2 linked regions of the Homo sapiens genome follow. The protein of the gene in region 1 interacts with the protein of each later gene in a pairwise test. Each region holds a gene or a part of one and is shown in the gene's direction. Other genes may lie near its edges.

Region 1 (7,110 bases):
ACAGAGTGAGACCCTGTCTCAAAAAAAAGAAAAAAAATCATTAGTTGGACCCATCCCTTTACCCAGCGTTCCCCTCTAGCCACCATCCCACTTCTCAGTTCCTCGTTCTCTGCCCCTGATGGTTATCTGTACTTGCTGTTTCATCTTTGTCATCTCTTTTTTTCTTTTTTTTTTTTTGAGACAGAGTCTCGCTCTGTCACCCAGGCTGCAGTGCAGTGGCGCGATCTCAGCTTACTGCAAGCTTTGCCTCCTGGGTTCACGCCATTCTCCTGTCTCAGCCTCCCGAGTAGCTGGGACTACAGGCACCCGCCACCATGCCCAGCTAATTTTTTGTATTTTTAGTAGAGACGGGGTTTCACTGCGTTAGCCAGGATGGTCTCGATCTCCTGACCTCACGATCCACCCACCTCGGCCTCCCAAAGTGCTGGGATTACAGGCCACTATTAACTTATTGTCAAAATACATCACTCTCTAGGATCCTGACACTACACTTGCCCTGTTTCCCCTTCCACTTTACTGGATGCTCTTTTCCAGTCTCCCTTGCTTGTTCTTCCTCTCTACCATCTCTAAACAATGCTGTATTTTAGGGTTGCATCCTCTGCTGCTGCTGTTTCTTTGTCTTCTCTCTGCTCAGTTTATCCTGCTCCATGCTTTTAAAATTCATCTACAGTTGATACTCATTATTTGCAGATTCTGTATTTATGAATTTGCCTACTTGCTAAATTAATTTGTAATCCCCAAATCAATATTTACACTGCTTCTGTGGTCATTCATGTACATGCACAATTAGTGAAAATGTGTCTTCTGATGCTCTCGATCTCAACTGAGGGTGAATAAGGTGATGCTCTATCTTTTTGTTTCAGCTCTCATGCTGAAACAGTCTATTTAGTGCTACATTTTTTTTTGTATTTTTGTGCCTTTTATTTGTGATTTTGCTGTTTACAGTGGCCCCCAACTATAGGCTGAAGTGTTATCTAGTATTCCTAAGTGCAAGAGGACTGTAATGTGCCTTATGGAGAAAATATATTTATGAGACAAGCTTCATTCAGGCATGAGTTAGTGCCGTTGGCTATGAGTTCAATGCTAATGAATAAAATATATATATTAAATAAAGTTTCTTTAATCAGAAACACACATAAAAACAAGATTATATATTGATCAGTTGATGAAAATATGACTATTTACAACAGTTGCAGGAACCTAACTCTGTATTTTCCCTAGGAACAATTGTTCAGTATTTGCTAATTCATTGTTCATGGTGACTTTATAGAACAGGACTACTGTGAATAAGAATCAACTATATATATTATCGGATCTAATTTATATGTTTGAACTCCGTACTCATATATTCTACTACTCTTCAACTCTATGTTTGGATGTTTAATAGGTATTTAAACTTAACATGTCCCAGACAGAACTCATGTTCCCTTCCAAAATCTTTCCAATCTCAATACATTGTACAATTAGTTATCTATCCCATGCACAGGTCAGAAGCCTAAGAGTCATCCTTCATTGTTATTACGCCTGACATAAGTACTGATACTCTGTCATCAAGTCCTGTCAATTCTAGTTTCTGTATATATCTTGAATCCAAGTGTTGATCGCTATCTTACATATAGCCCCAGTCCAAACTACATCTCTTACCTAAGCTACTGCAATAGCTTCCTAACCGATCTCCCTGCCTCCATTCTACCCTTCTGCCCATGTAGATCCTCTACGTAGAAGCCAGAGTGAGCTTTCAAAAGCACAAATTGTATCATGTGACTCCATTGCAACCAGAATAAAGTTCAAACTCCAAGCAATGGTCCTCTATCATCTGGCACCCAACTGTTCTCTGACATCATCTCTCCATGCTTTGTTTTCTGTGTTCCCTCCTCATCAGCCCTTGTCCTGTTCCTTAAGAATACCAAGCTTGCATCTTTCTTGGGACCTTTCTGTTTACTGCTATTTCCACTACAATGCTCCTCCCTCATTTTCATGACTGCTTTCTTTACATCACTCAGATCTTTCCAATGTGGCTACTTTTTGAGCAGCTCTCCTATTCATTCCTTTAATATTGCCCTTTTTATTTGCATGCTTGTTGCCTGTCTTCCCCAGGTAGAATGAAATTTTCTTAAAGACAGAAAACTTTATCTTTTTTTTTTTTTGAGATGGAATTTCGCTCTTGTTTTCCAGGCTGGAGTGCAATGGCACAATCTCGGCCCACTGCAACCTCCGCCTCCTGGATTCAAGCAATTCTCATGCCTCAGCCTTCCTAGTAGCTGGGATTACAGGCGTCTGCCACCATGCTTGGCTAATTTTTGTATTTTTAGTAGAGACAGGGCTTCACCATGTTGGCCAGACTGGTCTCAGACTCCTGACCTCAAGTGATCCACCCACCCTGGCCTCCCAAAGTGCTGCTGGGATTAGAGACGTGGGCCACTGCGCCCAGCCAGGATCCTCAGTATCTTTAGATATTATTTTAATAATATTCTTATACATCATAGAGTTTCAGTAAATAGTTACTGACTTGACTCTTGATTAACTGGGGACTCTGATAAAGTATCATACATGGTTGACTGGTAGAAAATGAATTAGGTTCCGATAAAGAGAAAAAGAGAAAAGAAAACAGTAATTTGTTTAAAACAAACCTAAAACAAACAGAAACCCCTAATACTATGTCACCATATATACAGTTATTGTTTAGTTCTATAATAATTTTTCAATAAGTAAATTATAACTAGGTAAATATGAACATTAAAATTTAATACCTCTTTGACTTGTGCCTGGTATAATTTGTTATTTGAATTGTAAAGGATGCTAATTTTATCTACCTCTTTTGATCAGGAATAGTTATCTAATAACTACAGCCTGTTTTCTTAATGGAAAATTGATATTAATTGTTCCTCTGTTAGGAAGAAGAAAGCATGTAGGCCATTTTGAAGCACAAATACAGTTTAGAGTCCTTAAAAATGGTGTTAGCATCATGGATTTATGTGACCACATGATTGTCAACTCACATCTTTTGGAACTTAGTCTAGGCATTTATAAAGCAAATTATTTTACATATTAAGCTTAAAAATGGTAGAGTAAGTAAGATAATCTCTAAGCATTAAATTCATGATCTATAGGACAACCAGGTTATCAGCAAGCAGAATGGAGTGAGTTCAGATATATAGAATCTTAAGTTGGAGGGAATTTTGCTCCCGTGAGCCATAGTACAGTGAATAAATTAAGTGTAATCTGGATTAGAACTGAATACCAAGACAGACAGACGTTTGACGATGTTTGTGATGTCCTGATGTTCTTTAATCATATATCTGATATTCTTATATTCTATTCCCTTCAGGCTGGCCCTCACTGCCTTGAATAAATTTGAAGAAGCAGTTACAAGTTATCAAAAGGCATTAGATCTTGACCCTGAAAATGATTCCTATAAGTCAAATCTGAAAATAGCAGAACAGAAGTTAAGAGAGGTATCCAGTCCTGTAAGTTGTTAATGCCAAATGAGTGAAGTATTTTCTGTCATTCACAATTTATTGTAATTGTAGATACTGGACTGATTCTCAGATATAATTGTTTTACAGACAGGAACTGGACTGAGCTTTGACATGGCTAGCTTGATAAATAATCCAGCCTTCATTAGTATGGTGAGTATACTTTCTTTTCTGCCTCTACTGGCTATGTTTTCCATAGACTATGTAGCTATGCAATTTTTTTTAGAAACAAGTGAGTTTTTGTGGTGGTGGTTGTAGTGGAGTATTGATATAAGGCTATAGCAGGGTTCTGTTTTTTTATTTCCAACTTTTATTTCAAGTGCAGGGGTAAATGTGCAGGATGTGCAGGTTTGTTACATAGGTAAAACGTCTGCCATGGTAGTTTGCTGCACAGATCCTCCCATTACCCAGGTATTAAGCCCAGCATCTATTAGCTGTTCTTCGTGATCCTTCCTCTCCTCCCATCCTCTGCCCTCCAACAGGCCCCAGTGTGTGTTGTTCCCCTACATGTGTCATTGTGTTCTCATCATTTGGCTCCCACTTGTAAGTGAGAACATGTGTTATTTGGTTTTCTTTTCCTGTGTTAGTTTGTTAAGTAAAATGGTAAAATGGCCTCCAGCTCCATCCATGTCCCTGCGAGGGACATAATCTTATTTCTTGTTTTGGCTGCATAGCATTCCATGGTGTATATGTACCGCATTTTCTTTATCCAGTCTATCATTGATAGGCATTTGCATTGATTCCATGTCTTTGCTATTGTGAATAGTGCTGCAGTGAACATACGTACGAATGTGTATTTACAGTAGAAAGATTTCTATTCCTTCGGGTATATACCCAGTAATGGGATTGCTGGGTCGAATGGTATTTCTGCTTCTAGGTCTTTGAGGAATCACCACACTGTCTTCCACAATGGTTGAACTAATTTACATTTCCACCAACAGTGTTAAAAGCATTCCTTTTTCTCCACAACTTCGCCAGCATCTGTTGGTTTTTGTTTTTTTTGTTGTTGTTGTTGTTTGTTTGTTTTTTGAGACAGAGTTTCACTCTTGTCACCCAGTCTGGAGTGCAATGGTGTGATCTTGGCTCACTGCAACCTCCACCTCCTGGGTTCAAGCGAATCTCCTGCCTCAGCCTCCTGAGTAGCTGGGATTATAGGCACCCACAACCATGCCTGGCTAATTATTGTATTGTCAGTAGAGATGGGGTTTCACCATGCTGACCAGGCTAGTCAAATGACCTCTGGTGATCCGCCTGCCTCAGCCTCCCAAAGTGCTGGGATTACGGGCATGAGCCACCACACCTGGCCTGTTTTTGAGTTTTTAATTATAGTTGTTCTGACTTGTGTGAGATGGTATCTCATTGTGGTTTTGATTTGCATTTCTCTAATGATCAATGATGTTGAGCTGTTTTTTCATATGTTTGTTGGCCACATATATGTCTTCTTTTGAGAATTGTCTGTTCATTTCCTTTGCCCACTTTATAATGGGGTTGTTTTTTTCTTGTAAATTTGTTTAAGTTCTTATAGATGTAGGATATTAGACCTTTGTCAGATAGATAGATTGCAAAAATGTTCTCCCATTCTGTAGGTTGTCTGTTTACTCTGTTGATTGTTTCTTTTGGTGTGGAAAAGAAACTCTTTAGTTTAATTAGATCCCATTTGTCAATTTTTTCTTTTGTTGCAATTGCTTTTGGCATCTTCATCATGAAATCTTTGCCTGTGTCTATGTCCTGAATGATATTGCCTCGGTTTATAGAGTTCTTATAGTTTTGAGTTGCACATTTAAGTCTTTAATCCATCTTGAGTTGATTTTTGTATATATATGGTATAACGAAGGGGTCCAGTTTCAATTTTCTCCATATGGCTAGCCAATTCTCTCAGCAACACTTATTAAATAGGGAATCCTTTCCCCATTGCTTTTGCCAGGTTTGTCAAAGATCAGATGGTTGTGAGTGTGCAGTCTTATTTCTGGGTTCTCTGTTCTGTTCCACTGGTCTATGTGTCTGTTCTTGTACCAGTACCATGCAGTTTTGGTTATTGTAGCCCTGTAGTACAGTTTGAAATTGGGTAGCATGATGCCTCAGCTTTGTTCTTTTTGTTTAGGATTGCCTTGGATGTTTGGGCTCTTTTTTGGTTCCATATGAATTTTAAAATAGTTTTTTCTAATTCTGTGAAGAATGTCAATGGTAGTTTAATGGGAATAGCATTGAATCTATAAATTGCTTTAGGCAATATGGCCATTTTCACGATTTTGATTCTTCTATCCATGAGCATGGAGTGTTTTTCCACTTGTTTCTGTTCTCTCTTATTTCCTTGAGCAGTGGTTTGTAGTTCTCCTTGAAGAGTTCCTTCACTTTGCCTGTTAGCTGTATTTCTAGATATTTTATTCTTTTTATGGCAATTGTGAATGCGAGTTCATTTGTGATTTGACTTTCGACTTGCCTGTTGTTGGTATGTAGGAATGCTAGCAATTTTTGCACATTGATTTTGTATCCTGAGACTGTGCTGAAGTTGCTTATCAGCTTAATAAACTTCTCGACTGAGACAATAGGGTTTTCTAGATATAGGATCCTGTCATCTGCATATAGGGATAATTTGACTTCCTCTCTTCCTATTTGAATATGCTTTATTTCTTTATTGTGCTTCATTTCCCTGGCCAAAACTTCCAATACTATTAATTTGTTGAATAGGAGTGATGAGAGAGGGTATTTTGTCTTGTGCTGGTTTTCAAGGGGAACACTTCCAGCTTTTGCCCATTCAGTATGATATTGGCTGTAGGTTTGTCATATATGGCTTTTATTATTTTGAGGTATGTTCCTTCAATATCTAGTTTATTAAGAGTTTCTTATATGAAAGGATGTTGAATTTTCTTGAAGGCCTCTTCAGCATCTATTGAGATAATCATGGGGTTTTTGTCTTTAGTTCTGTTTATGAGATGAATCACATTTATTGATTTGCATATGTAGAAACAGCCTTGCATCTTGGGGATGAAGCCTCCGTGATTGTGATGGGTAAGCTTTTTGATGTGCTGCTTGGATTCAGTTTGCCAGTATTTTGCTGAGGATTTTTGTATCAATGTTCATCAAGGATATTGGCCTGAAGTTTTCTTTTTTGTTATTGTATCTCTGCCAGGTTTTGGTATCAGGATGATGTTGGCCTCATAGAATGAATTAGGGAGGAGATCCTCCTTTTCAATTTTTTAGAATAGTTTCTGTAGGAACGGTACCAGCTCTTCTTTGTACCTCTGGTAGAATTCAGCTGTGAATTCGTCTGGTCCTGGGCTTTTTTTTTTTTTTTTGGTTGGTAGGCTATTTATTAGTGCCTCAATTTCAGAACTCATTATTGGTTTATTCAGGGATTCAATTTCTTCCTGGTTCAGTCTTGGGAGGATGTATGTGTCCAGGAATTTATCAAGTTCTTCTAGAAATTCATTAGTAAAATTTCTAGTTTATGCGCATAGGACTGTTTATACTATTCTTTGATGGTTGTTTGTATTTCTGTGGGGTCAGTGGTAATATCATTTTTGATTGTGTTTGTTTGAATCTTCTCTCTTTTTTCTTCATTAGTATAGCTAGCGGTCTATTTTATTAATTTTATCAAAAAACTAGCTCCTGTATTCATTTTTTTTTTTTTTGA
Region 2 (7,000 bases), on another chromosome or scaffold:
AGGGGAAGGTTCGTCGTTGCCAGTTTCTTCTCCTGCAAGAGATCACTTCCTGTGAGTGGCTCTGAAAGGCATATGCTGGAGTGCGCCACCAAATGTCTCTGATTGATGGCGAGGAGGACTGAGGCAGAGGGCTAGAGCCCACGGCTTCCCTCTCCCAGGAAAGAACTTGCTGTGTGACCCTGGGTGAGTCACTAGATGTCTCTGGGCCCCAGTTGCCTCACCCATGTTGTTAGAGAAACAGTTGAAGCTTTGTAAACCATGGGTACCATCCAGGCAGTTGCTGTGATCAGGACCTGGCAGCGGGCAGGAGCTGCTCCCCCTTCTGACGGGAAGCATCCAGAGGGAAAGCCGGGCCCAGAACACAGTCCTGGGTGTCGTGGAGGGAGGGTTAAATATGCCATCCCTTCACTGTCTCCACTAAGGACACTAAGGAGGTGGAGTGGGGAGGGACTTGGGCTCTGTGGGGGTTAGAGGGGGCAGCAATGAGCAAGGTGCTAGGTAAGGGATTGGCACGTCCTCACCTATGAGGCAGGTCTGCCAGCATCGCAGGCAGGGCCCTCCTTGGTGGCTTCATCCTTCCCCTCCACTTCCATGTCTCACCAGGTCACTCCATGTAGGCTCTGCCCTCTGTTCCTTGGATTGTGAGTGTATATACACATACTTTTATATCACAGAGCTTTTCCTCCCAAAGCCTAGAAGGCCTCTGCTTTCCCTTTGCCTTTTAGAATCCTGCTCATCCTTCAAGGCTTAGCTCAAACGCCACCTCTTCCATGAGGCCAGTCTTGATTTTCCTCTTTCCCCCCGACTCACGTCAATTCCATTCTTTGCGTTCTCACAGCACATTTTTTGTACTTCTGTTATAACCCTAATTTTATTTTTCTTCATAGATTTTTTTTGTTTTTCTGTCTTACTTAGACTATGACCTTCTTGAATATAAAAACTGTGTCTTCCTCAATTTTTATCCAGTGTTTGGTACAGAGCTTGGTATATAGTAGATATCAATAAGCATTTATCAAGTAGAATTAATAGTAAAATGTCACTTTTTAATGCATTCTATGTGCCAAGCACTGTGTCATGTGTTTTACATATATTATCTCATTGAATCTTTACAACAACCCTATGAGATAGGTACTATCATCCTCATTTTACAGATGAGGGACCTGGAGCTCAGAGAGGTTAAGCAACTTGCCCGAGGTCACACAGCTGGTAAGTGTGGAGCCAGAATTTGAACCCAGATCCACCTGACTCCAAACCGTGCTCTAAATGCATATGCTGCCTTCCAATGAATGAATGAAAGGTGAGATTTTACTGGGCCATGTAGGGGCTAGAGAAACAAGCCTGGTAGGCAGAGAGAGCGCAAAGAAGAAGGCTTTTTCTGAATTAGGGAAAAGCTCTGAGAACTCACGCTCGTGGAACAGACACTTACTGAACATCTACTACAGGCCAGACAGTCTGCTGAGATTACCAAGATGAGTGAGAACTGCCCCCAAGGAGCTCACTGACTAAGAGGCTGGGAGAGCTGGTCAAGTGACAGGCACATCAAGTAACAAACATGCTGGCATAGGAGAGGTGCTATGGAAACACAGGGGATAGGCAGCCAGCTCGGGCTGTAGTAGTGGGAGTTTTCCTGGAGGGGGCGAGACAGTGGCCACTGTGATTACAGAAGAGGACCAGGGTCTTCTACAGCTTTGATCCCCTCTCCACGCCCATCCATGAGATGTGTGGATTTTCCCACGCCTTTCAGAAGAGGATTGTTGCCTCTGGTACTTTGATATTAGTGGTGGTCGTTTCTAGGGGGACGGGATGAGAGGGATGGGTTCCTGCCGGGGCTATAAGGGTTGTTCCTCCATCCTAACCCAATCACACTGAGTAGGGGCTACCTATTTCACTGATAGCCATGGCTGCTCCTAAGAATTTTGGGGGTACCTCTGTTCACTGCAGCCTGACTAAAAATTCCTCCCCACCTCACTGCAGGTTATAAGACCCTTCTCAAGTGCCTCTCAGGTAAATTCTGCCGCCGGGAGCTGATTGGCATCATGGGCCCCTCAGGGGCTGGCAAGTCTACATTCATGAACATCTTGGCAGGATACAGGTAAGGAAGAGACTGGGGTGGAATGGAGGCAGGACTCAGGAAGAAGTATCCCTTGGGGAACACAGAAGGTATTCTGAAAGGGCATTGACCCCCATCCTCAACCCACATCCCTGCAGGGAGTCTGGAATGAAGGGGCAGATCCTGGTTAATGGAAGGCCACGGGAGCTGAGGACCTTCCGCAAGATGTCCTGCTACATCATGCAAGATGACATGCTGCTGCCGCACCTCACGGTGTTGGAAGCCATGATGGTGAGGGCTGGATAGTCACCCCTCCTCCCAGCAACCCCCTCTGTCTGCTGTCGCCACCTTCACCATTGGCGGAGGGTTCAAGGCAGAGCTCCCTCCCACACATACTTTTCTTGCTTACTCTCTGGGCCCCAGGTCTCTGCTAACCTGAAGCTGAGTGAGAAGCAGGAGGTGAAGAAGGAGCTGGTGAGTGGGGAAGGGAGGCAGTGGGACCACTCCCTTTTGTGGTGCTGCTGAGCTCAAGGCCCCGAGCTGGGAGTGGGAGAGTGGTGGCCTAGGCCGAGACAATGCACTTAAGGGAGATGCTTTTTGAAGCTGGGGTGGTGCCTGGGGGAAGCAGAGACTCCGAAGCTGACCTGGCATGGGTGGGGTGGGGCCAGGTGACAGAGATCCTGACGGCACTGGGCCTGATGTCGTGCTCCCACACGAGGACAGCCCTGCTCTCTGGCGGGCAGAGGAAGCGTCTGGCCATCGCCCTGGAGCTGGTCAACAACCCGCCTGTCATGTTCTTTGATGAGCCCACCAGGTAGTTCTCTCCACCCTTTCCCACCAGGATACCCCTCTCCTCTCGGCCCTGAGCCAGGGCTGGAGGCTGCATCTTCTCCATGATCCAGAGCCTCTGTTCACAGCCTCCTGGGGCCAAGATAAGGGCTTCTTCCTCATCTCCACCCTTGCCAATTCTGTTGCTGTGAGCTGCCCCATCCTTCGCCTGGGCAGAGATCTAGGTGTCCTCCTTGATTGACACCTCCCTCTCCAGTCACCCTCAGCCATCAGTCACCAAGTCCTGTTGATTCTGCCTCCTTTTGATATCTCTCAGATTTGCCCTGCCCCATCTCTAATGTTGATGTTAAGTTCAGGACAGCAACAGATTCTTATCTGCTTGTCTCCAGTGTCTCCCAGTCAATCCTTTCTCCAAACTGCAGCTACAGTGAACTTTCTTTTATTTTTTTAAGATGGAGTCTCGCTCTGTCACCCAGGCTGGAGTGCAGTGGCACAATCTCGGCTCACTGCAACCTCTGACTCCCGGGTTCAAGCGATTCTCCTGCCTCAGCCTCTTGAGTAGCTGGAATTACAGGCGTGTACCACCACACCCAGCTAGTTTTTGTATTTTTAGTAGAGATGGGGTTTCACCATGTTGGTCAGGCTGGTCTTGAACTTCTGACCTCAGGTGATCCACCCGCCTTGGCCTCCCAAAGTGTTGGGATTACAGGCGTGAGCCACCGTGCCCGGACAGAGTGAACTTTCTAAAGACAAGTCTGCAGTGCTCACTCCCCTGCTTAAAACATGCAGTGTTTCCTTTCTGACTTGTCCTCGAAATAAAGTCAGGTGACTTACAAGGGCCTGGTCTGAACCTACTTCTCCAGCCTCAAGTCATGTACTTTATGCTCTAATAATACTGAGTTGCTTGTAATTCCCTGGTCAAGCCACATGTTTCATGCCTCTAAGCTTTGCCCATGCTGTGTCTTCTGCTGGAATGCCCTTCACCACTGTGCCTGCCCTCTCCCCTTCACCTGCTTAGCTCTTACTCCTGGGCTCGCTCAGGAACCTTCTCTGACTACCCTCCAACACCTGCTACAGCTGAGCTGAATCCGCCCCCTCTTTCACCCAGTGTTGCTACAGCACTTTCCACATTACCCAAAATCATCTGTGTGCTTGTCTCTCTCTCCTTCCAGACCAGAGTCTATGTCTTATTTATGCATCATTGTAATCCCAGTGCCTGGCATACAACAGGTCCTCAATATATGCTTATGAAACTGAACAGTGCTCTTGGCTTCTGGGTATCCCTCCAAGTGCCTGAACCGTAAAGGATACAGATGCGGCCAGAGTGCCCTCTTCCTGCCAGCTTCATCCCCTTCACAGCAGCTGCCCCGCCCCAGACACTCCCTTCTTTTGGCCTCACCCACCTCACGTGGCCCCCTGGTGGCCTCTCTCTGGACAGTGGTCTGGATAGCGCCTCTTGTTTCCAAGTGGTGTCCCTCATGAAGTCCCTGGCACAGGGGGGCCGTACCATCATCTGCACCATCCACCAGCCCAGTGCCAAGCTCTTTGAGATGTTTGACAAGGTGAGTGTCTCCAGGCCTCAAGGAGGATTGGCCTGAGATGGAGGGATGGAAGGGGGTCAGTAGGGGTGCCTGGCCCGCTGTTCCTTCCTTACCCTTCTCTTTCTGCTGCAGCTCTACATCCTGAGCCAGGGTCAGTGCATCTTCAAAGGCGTGGTCACCAACCTGATCCCCTATCTAAAGGGACTCGGCTTGCATTGCCCCACCTACCACAACCCGGCTGACTTCAGTGAGTGGGGGTCTGTTGGTAGGGGCTGGGAAACAGCAGTGGGCCGAACCTGGGGTCTCTGGTCTTGCACTCAGGCCTCCTAGGGGTAGAGATCTCACCGTCGCCTGCCTTCCCCACACACCCAAGGCGGGACTGACTTGCCCTTGGGAAGTGAGTGTGAATCTAAACTGAGCTCTCCACTCTGTGTCCCCAGTCATCGAGGTGGCCTCTGGCGAGTATGGAGACCTGAACCCCATGTTGTTCAGGGCTGTGCAGAATGGGCTGTGCGCTATGGCTGAGAAGAAGAGCAGCCCTGAGAAGAACGAGGTCCCTGCCCCATGCCCTCCTTGTCCTCCGGTGAGTAGGGGTGGAGAGGGCAGAGCAGGCATAGTTGGGGAGGGGAGACTGGACCATGGACAGTGGCCCTGCCAAAGAGGCTGTTCCCCAGAGGCATTGCAACCAATGGGTGCTAGGAAGAACCTAGGACTTGGAATCGACCTACTAGGAACAGCACTGTGACCTTAGGCACATTATTTAACCTCCTTGAGCTCCAGTTTCCTCATTGACTTATTCATTCAGCAAGTTCTTGTTGAGCAGCTACAGTGTGCTGTCCTCGGTCCTGGCATAGTGCCCATCTGGTAAGCAAGATCAACATGGTCCCCAGCTTAGTGGCCAGTGTGGCTTACTGTTCTCTCTAACTTAGAGATGATGATACTCACCTCACAGGGTGATTGGGAGGACTAATTAGATAATCACATAAAGCTCTTAGCACTGTAGCTGGTACAGCAGGCGTCTGCCCAGTGCTAGTTCTCTTCCTTAAATGAGACACTGTAACCCCTGAAAACCAGATTGATTAGTTTTTGTTGTTATTGTTGTCATTATCATCATTATTAAATAACATTACTGTAAAATTGGTGGCATAAAGGAATTATACCTGGCCGGATACAGTGGCCCACGCCTGTAATCCCAGCACTTTGGGAGGCCGAGGCGGGTGGGTCAGGAGATGGAGACCATCCTGGCTAACACGGTGAAACCCCATCTCTACTAAAAATACAAAAATTAGCCGGGCGTGGTGGCGGGCGCCTGTAGTCCCAGCTACTCGGGAGGCTGAGGCAGGAGAATGGCGTGAACCAGGGAGGCGGAGCTTGCAGTGAGCTGAGATTGCGCCACTGCACTCCAGACTGGGCGACAGAGCGAGACTCCGTCTCAAAAACAAAACAAAACAAAACAAAAAAAACCCAAAACAAAACAAAAAAGGAATTATACCCTTAGAGTTCATGTGTTTTGATGGATTAAAAAAGTAACCGATCTATTATTAGCCACCACGGGTGTCCATTACTTTCTTTCCATCTCCTCCCTCCCAAGTTTTTGCCCCCTTTTTGTGTCTGAATCTTGCTCTGATTCATACCCCTAAGCCTAGCTTTCAGGTACACAACTTAATGGTACAAGATTCTCTGTAGACCTGGAGGACCCCTACCCTGGGGAAGAGCTCTGAGGTTTTTCATTCACTGAGCTGGGTGTTCTGTGGGTGAATGGGGTAGGCTCACCTGATCCCGATCCAATTTCTTCTTCCCAGGAAGTGGATCCCATTGAAAGCCACACCTTTGCCACCAGCACCCTCACACAGTTCTGCATCCTCTTCAAGAGGACCTTCCTGTCCATCCTCAGGGACACGGTGAGGCGTCAGGCTGGGGGAGAGGAGGCTGGCACAGGCCTGACCTTTTGGGCTGTAGGATCCCAGCAGCTGAAATGGGAATGGGGACCCTCCCTCACAGCCCTGCAATGTGCCTGTGGGGTCTCTGTGCCTGTGAGGGCAGCTCCGAGTTCCTACTCCAAGTCTACTCTGTGGCTTGCCCTGGCCTGTAACACATCCCTCTCCTGGTGATGACCCCTCCCAAGGTCCTGACCCACCTACGGTTCATGTCCCACGTGGTTATTGGCGTGCTCATCGGCCTCCTCTACCTGCATATTGGCGACGATGCCAGCAAGGTCTTCAACAACACCGGCTGCCTCTTCTTCTCCATGCTGTTCCTCATGTTCGCCGCCCTCATGCCAACTGTGCTCACCTGTGAGCTGAGCTGCCCTGGGCATGGGGCAAGGGTGTGGGTGCTGGGGCTTGGGGCAGGGGCCAGGGTGTCGGCCGGGTGTGCCTAAGCAGCCTGTGTCCTCAGTCCCCTTAGAGATGGCGGTCTTCATGAGGGAGCACCTCAACTACTGGTACAGCCTCAAAGCGTATTACCTGGCCAAGACCATGGCTGACGTGCCCTTTCAGGTGGGCCTCTTCCTCCCACCTGCCCACTGCCTCCATCTTGTCTTGCTCCTTCTATCCTTGCTTTCTTGCCTCCCTCAAACTTGTCACTTTCCTTCCTTTGCTGTCCTTCTACTCACTTAGCA

The links. Proteins that work in one complex are often made in the same cells at the same time.
Region 2: the proteins of SGTB (region 1) and ABCG4 interact in binary tests that used the Homo sapiens proteins (3 or more experiments, as listed by UniProt).

The regions. Positions count from the first base shown.
Region 1 is NC_000005.10:65,677,013-65,684,122, reverse strand, and holds part of SGTB (small glutamine-rich tetratricopeptide repeat-containing protein beta), read left to right. Parts: intron 1-3,328; coding exon 3,329-3,467; intron 3,468-3,566; coding exon 3,567-3,629; intron 3,630-7,110. UniProt on the Homo sapiens protein: Co-chaperone that binds directly to HSC70 and HSP70 and regulates their ATPase activity.
Region 2 is NC_000011.10:119,152,052-119,159,051, forward strand, and holds part of ABCG4 (ATP-binding cassette sub-family G member 4), read left to right. Parts: intron 1-1,151; coding exon of another isoform or gene 1,152-1,206; exon of another isoform or gene 1,207-1,717; coding exon of another isoform or gene 1,718-1,763; intron 1,764-1,974; coding exon 1,975-2,092; intron 2,093-2,208; coding exon 2,209-2,341; intron 2,342-2,473; coding exon 2,474-2,524; intron 2,525-2,718; coding exon 2,719-2,864; intron 2,865-4,277; coding exon 4,278-4,401; intron 4,402-4,512; coding exon 4,513-4,627; intron 4,628-4,820; coding exon 4,821-4,963; intron 4,964-6,182; coding exon 6,183-6,281; intron 6,282-6,505; coding exon 6,506-6,674; intron 6,675-6,777; coding exon 6,778-6,878; intron 6,879-7,000. UniProt on the Homo sapiens protein: ATP-dependent transporter of the ATP-binding cassette (ABC) family that may be involved in the cellular efflux of sterols, in particular cholesterol and desmosterol (a cholesterol precursor), to high-density lipoprotein (HDL).